Linked DNA regions of Homo sapiens: region 1 is linked to region 2. A link means that fine-mapping ties the variant in region 2 to the expression of a gene that starts in the linked region. Tissue or cell type: whole blood. Region 2 holds a variant in brackets; the other region holds the start of a gene. All regions are shown on one strand. Distances are between the middles of the regions. Region 1 holds the start of WDFY4 (WDFY family member 4). Region 2 overlaps WDFY4 (WDFY family member 4).

Region 1 (2,948 bases), 39 kb before region 2:
CCGTCTCAAAAAAAAAAAACCTCTCTTGCAAATATTATTTGATTTGTTCCTTCTAACAAGGCATTCATTCATTCTGCAAATAAGATGTCAATTATCTCAGTTAAGATAGTGAGAATTTCAACCTTGAGTTTCTAGCTCTGAATTTAGTGCTCTTTACCTGCCTGCTGCTGGCTACCCGGCAAGGTGCTGGGGTGGGTAGAAGGTAGGAGACCTGGGTGCAGGTGGGCCCTCCAGCAGACTTTGCGAGATCCCACTATGACAGACTCTCCGCGCTTCCTCTGGGCATTCACAGGCATGGGGTCCTGGCCTGTCCCATGCTGGCCACCCTTCCTGCCTCTGTGGAAGTTCCTCTGTCTAATCCGCTCTTACCATAGGCCTCTGATTTCAGGCAATATCTTCTTGTAGATTTTATTTATGATTTCATTGGTGACAATGACGAGGGGTTTTCATCATATACAACAAACACTTCACTGCAAATTCTCTAAGGTTTTCTCTTTCCCTTGGCTGGCACTGCATGTATCCTTTCAATTTCTCTTTTCTTTTCTTTTTTTTCTTTTTTTTTTTTTTGAGACGGAGCTTCGCTCTTGCTGTCCAGACTGGAGTGCAGCTGGATAGATCTCCTATTTTGGCTGCTGTCTACTGACAAGTTTGCACTGGTGGAGGTTGAGGTTTTGTGACAAATGTTATTTTCCTCTTTAAACCAATCTTGGAGCTTTACTCCATGTCATAACAAGTGATGTTGTTGCTGCCTCTCAGTCAGTCATGCATGGTCCACTGGTTTTGTGAGCTAGAGACAAGCGATGAGCTGCACTGAGGATCAAGGATCAGGCATTAGCGCTAACAAGTGCCCTTGCTCTTTGGCAAAATTCTCCTTTTACAGAGCACAAGCAGGATTGTGTGTGAATGGACATGCTTGTTTGTACTGTGGAGATGACGTTATGGATAGGTGACATGGATAATTCAGCCTAGTTTATATACTCAGAGGAATGAGAATTTGGAGTCTGAGTTTCAGAGACTTCCATTCTATGGTTTTAGATGTCCTCTCATCCTTGCCTCAGTGTTGGCCGCAGGAGGACTCCCCTCATTGGTGGTTCAAGTTCTATCTGAGGATGGGGGAGGAAGAAATCCAAGTGGGCAACTCTGAGCTTGGTGGGGTGAGGGCTGCCCAACCCATGCCATGTCCAGGGGTGCACTTAAACACACCTCTGATTAGATTCACCTAACACCATCATTGTTCTCATTTTGCCAGAGGCCCAGAGAGGAGAGGTGTGCACCAGTGGTCACACGGCTAGTGAAGAGGGGACACAGAATCCAGACCTACTCTTCTAGGGCTGGGCTGTACTTTCCATTTTGTCCTTGGCCCCAACCAGCACCGCTTGACCACGGAGGCTGCACAGCCAGCCCCAAGGGGCCTTGCTGCAGAACCCAAGTCACCCGCCAGAACTCCAGCAGCTCCGTGGTCGGCTGGAGAGTGGGCAGAGTCAGGCATCTGCCGGCTCTCCACTTCTGCTTTCTCCAGGAAATGAGCAGAGACCCAGCTCCAGTGATTCAGAGTGAAACGGCGCTGAGGACTGACGATGTGGGGCCGGGTCCTCTTCCCCCGAGCCTGAGGGGCTGCAGCTGGGGATAGGGGGCCCATGCCTTCTGATGTCTACAGGCGCTGACGGCCACCCCTCCAGGTAGGCCACCTTGCTCTTGGCCCAGCCAGGCCAGCCTAGAGGTGGGCATATGGGCGCCGCCTGTCAGCGTGGGGCCTACTGGCTGCCTCCTGGGAGGCTGACTATGGGGCACATGTGACCCAGTGCCTGGTTTGGGTTTGTGAATGTGGGAGAGGAGGTGAGCTGGGGAGCAGGAAGTGTGTGTGGCGTGGGGGGCCCATGTGGTCAGGGCCACTCCAGGGCCTGGGTCTGCCTGAGTGTGTGTCACTGCTGAAGTTTGGGAGTCAGGCTGGGCTCCAGCAGCACTCCTCGACCTCTGACGGTAGGTCAAGTCCTTTCTCGGGGTCCTGCTATGAAGGGAACCCTGGGAAGGGCTGACACGGGCTTTCCTGGTTGTCGAGGGGGCGGAGAGAGCAGGCCGACAGGACAGTGAGGCTCGCCCTCCAAGCTCCCTCATAGGCCTCTGAGGAGTGCAGAGTTGGAGGGCCATTTCCAACGGGCCTCAGAGGGAGCTGGTCTATCCCGGCCCTGTCATTACTCCACTGGGTTCTGGTAAGTAGGTGCCTCCCTGGGCTCACTTCCCTCATCTGAATTATTACAGCAAACCATTGAAACGCCTGCATTTTCTGCCTAAGCAGGGCCACCTGCTCAGTAAGGACTGATTCTTCTTTTCCCCTGAAATGAAACTTCTAGAACACTAAACCGATCCTTTGTCCCAACTCATCTAAAGTGTGGGGGGGCTGGTTTGATAACTAAGGGCTCTATGCATTACCCTTTCCATGGAGCACACTAATTTTAATATGAGTTTATGTATAGTCATTCATTTAGTTATTTAACAAATAGGTATTGAGAAACCACGCCCTGCCAGGCTCTGGTCAAAGCGGACAGGGGTCTACGGTGCTCAGCAGGTGGGAGAATAGCAGGTAGGGTGGGGGTCTTGGGAGGGTGGGGATGGCTCTAGTCTTCTGAGAGGGGACCTGTGAGGGAGGCCGAGTCCTGTGGGTTTCTGAGAAGTGTTCTTGATAAGGGTCTGGAGGAGGAGACCTCGTGGAGGTTGGTGTGGCAGAGCCGGGTAAGGGGCATGCCTGGGGTTCTGGCCAGAGAGGTAGGGAACAGGGTCAGGTCAGGGAGGCCCTTCCTGTCTGTCCATCCTGAGCACATGGGCTATTCTTTCATGAACTTGGAAAGATTTTCTGTGTTGAAAGAAAAGAAAATTTCGGCCAGGCGCAGTGGTTCACGCCTGTAATCTCAGCACTTTGGGAGGCTGAGAGGGGCAGATCACCTGAGGTC
Region 2 (2,876 bases):
CCCAGACTGTACATTCGTCCTTCTCTTTCTCTGACTTCCCCAACATGTCTGTCAGGTTAACCAGTGGAATGGGAAGTTGCATGGACAGCATTCCATAGGTTGACCCCAAAGGTGTTCACATGTGTGCATGCACACACACACGTGCACACACACATGCACACATGCATCATGCACACACACACACGTGCGTGCGCACACACGCACACACAGAGGGTGCAGGTGCAGTAATCCTGGTGGAGCTGCAGGCAAAGCCCCAGGAAGAAAGACCCCAGGAAGCTCCTGGCAGGCTGGTCTCCATCTCTGCAGAGTTCCTGTCCTCTTGGCCTCTGTCTGGCAGCCCTGAGCTGTTTAGTTGAGTTGCTGGCTGTCTGATTGTCAGTCATCACCTATTGCACTCTTTGGACCTTGACGAGATCTGTCTGGGATCTAGATGAGAGGTTGGGGAGGGGCCTGATCAGGTCCTCACCATTGTTGCTCACACACATATTATCAGCCTCACCTCTGGACTGCTTTCCCTTCCTAATCATGAGGCCCTGGACCACAGTCACACAGTATGATTTGTTAGGAAGCCCTTATGTTCTAATTTCTACAGTCCCTCCCCTTTTCCCTCCTTTCCACCCTCCCTCCCTCCCTCTCTCCCTCCCTCTCTCCCTCCCTTCCTTCCTTCCATCTATGAATCTTATAAAGGAGCTATAGAGCACATAGTAAGCACTTTATATAAACTTAATCTTCACAGCCACCCTAGGTGCATCCTCTGGTTGTCAGCATTTCACACTTGAGGACTGGAGCCCAGAGGGACTGTCCCATGGCCTCACTGAAATGGCTGCAGGGGCCTGATCCTGGGTCTGGGCTGACCTGCTTCTGCTGCCTTGCTGCCTGGGGTCACGTGTGCTCTTCTCTTGCAGGAGACGCTGGGCAGGGTTGCTGAGTCTGGGCTTCCAGCCCTGCTCCTACAGTGCCTTTACCTCTTCTTTGTCTTTCCTCTGGACAAAGATGAGCTTCTTGAGAGTGATCTTCAAGTTCAAAAGATGTTCGTGCAGGTGAGTTCAAGGAGGGCCTCCAATTCCCTGGGTCAAAACCTCACTTCGGGGACAGACTCTCCAATGCTTCCCGTAGATGCTTTTGTCTTTCTCAGCCCTGGTTCCTGAACTCCTCTGTTCTCCCAGAGGGTCTAACCTCCCCCTCCCCTCCCCACCACTGCACAGTCTGCCCCACTAGCAAAATAGTAGCCAAAATTTTCTAAATATAAGCTTTGTACCCACCCCTGTGCCATGGCCTCACATGGGTCACCTCCAGGATTGCTGTCTGCCATCACAGGATGTAAATAGTGTTGTCATCCTGGGTCCATACAAACTGAGGCATGGTGAGTGAGCATG[G/C]GGTCTGGGGTCATAGAAGTCTTGGGTGGGGCTGGGATTGGCACCCTTGAGTAAACTTGAGTTTACATGTTCTCGGTGCCTCTTCCTTCCTCTCAGAAGACATCTCAGGCCTCTAAGCATCAAATGCAATTTCCTTCTGTCATTCCCCATCTTTCCTCTTCTCTTTGACTGACTAACTTCTCACCTCCTTCCCCTGCCCACTTCCGGGCAGTTTCTGCTTTCTCACCTTCTGAGACTCTGAGCTCTCTAGATAACCCTTCCTGCTCCCTGAGCTTGCAGGGGACGGTATGGAGGATCGTGTGGCCCGGGAGGATACAGAGGACTGTGGGGCCCGTCGCTGTGTGTCCAGTGTCTGCAGTGTCTCACACAGAGCAGGTGCCTGTGACTGTTCAGTGAATTCCCAAATGCAGCTGTCCATGGTACACACATGTCCACATTGGCATCCACATTAGACGAATTCCCAAGCCCATTCCTCATTTCCAGAGGGTAGTGCATGAGTTCTGGCAGGTTCCATTAACAGTGGGTTACCCTCTGAGCTGCATTTGTGGAAATGTAGGTGTCATCTGCTTGTATGTAAATCATATTCTAATTGGAGGCCAGGACGCTGCACCAGGCACTTTCACAAATGTTTACTGTGTGGCTTTTAGGTGCCCTGAAGGGAAGTAGTGCAGGGTCTGTCTTCGAGGTCTTCTGGGTATGTGGACAGAATGTGTGCCACAGGGAATAGACCATTCCTGCATTGCTCAAGGGTTTCTGTTACTTCATTTCACAAAAATATACAGAGCCCCTACTGTGCGCAGCTCTATGGCAGACAGATGGTTGCTGCAGCAAGCATAGGGCTTCACTTTGAGAGGTGACAGAAGGATGAAGAAGTCAAACAAGGGGAAAACAATCCAGGAATAAGTGTGTTGTTAGCAATTAAAAAAATAGAGATGGGGCTTTTCTCTGTTGCCCAGGCTGGAGTGCAGTAGTTAGCAATTTTTTAAGTGCTATGTAGGTAAAGCCAAAGGTATACTGGGCAATGATGGTGACAGGCTTTTATTTGTATGAGAGAAATCAGTGGAGTCTATTCTGAGGGCATGGCATTTAACCAGAGAGCTGAGGGTTGTCAGGGTCTGAGGAGGTAGTGTGGCCGGGTGGGGTGGAGGAAGTGGAGAGGAGCAGAGAAATGGCAATGCAAGCCCAGGGACAGGTGAGACCTTGGTCACATGGCCACAGCTACCTGCAAGGGAGGCAGGGAAATGGGACCTACAGCTGTGGTCCATGAAGCCCAGCTTCTCTCTGTATCAGACTAGAAGGGGAAAATGTCTTCCCATGGAAGTAGCTTGTGATATTTGTCACACTGGCAGCAGGTCCTGTTGGACCCCCAAGAGCCCAGGGGGGAGCTGCAGTGGATAAAGTGAGTGAGAAGGCAGTGCTAGTCCATGCAGGATGCTATGGGCCATGCTACGGTGGTGGGATTTTATCCCAAGTGGAGAGGGAGGTTTTGCAAGTCCCTCT

The links. PIP is the estimated chance that this variant, and not a neighbour inherited with it, causes the effect.
Region 1: WDFY4 starts here. The variant in region 2 is fine-mapped to the expression of WDFY4 in whole blood (TOPMed, PIP above 0.99). The same link has a PIP of 0.9 or more in blood mononuclear cells.

What each region holds. Positions count from the first base shown.
Region 1 is chr10:48,683,323-48,686,270 of GRCh38, forward strand. It overlaps WDFY4 (WDFY family member 4), which reads left to right and starts at 1,551. Exons shown (of 62, transcript NM_001394531.1): 1 at 1,551-1,679. RefSeq lists enhancers at 473-552, 1,483-1,782, 1,801-2,341 and a silencer at 773-822.
Region 2 is chr10:48,722,528-48,725,403 of GRCh38, forward strand. It overlaps WDFY4 (WDFY family member 4), which reads left to right. Exons shown (of 62, transcript NM_001394531.1): 5 at 906-1,040. Among named protein-coding and RNA genes, the nearest start is that of WDFY4, 39 kb to the left of the region's middle. The variant G/C (reference allele first, on the strand shown) is at 1,377.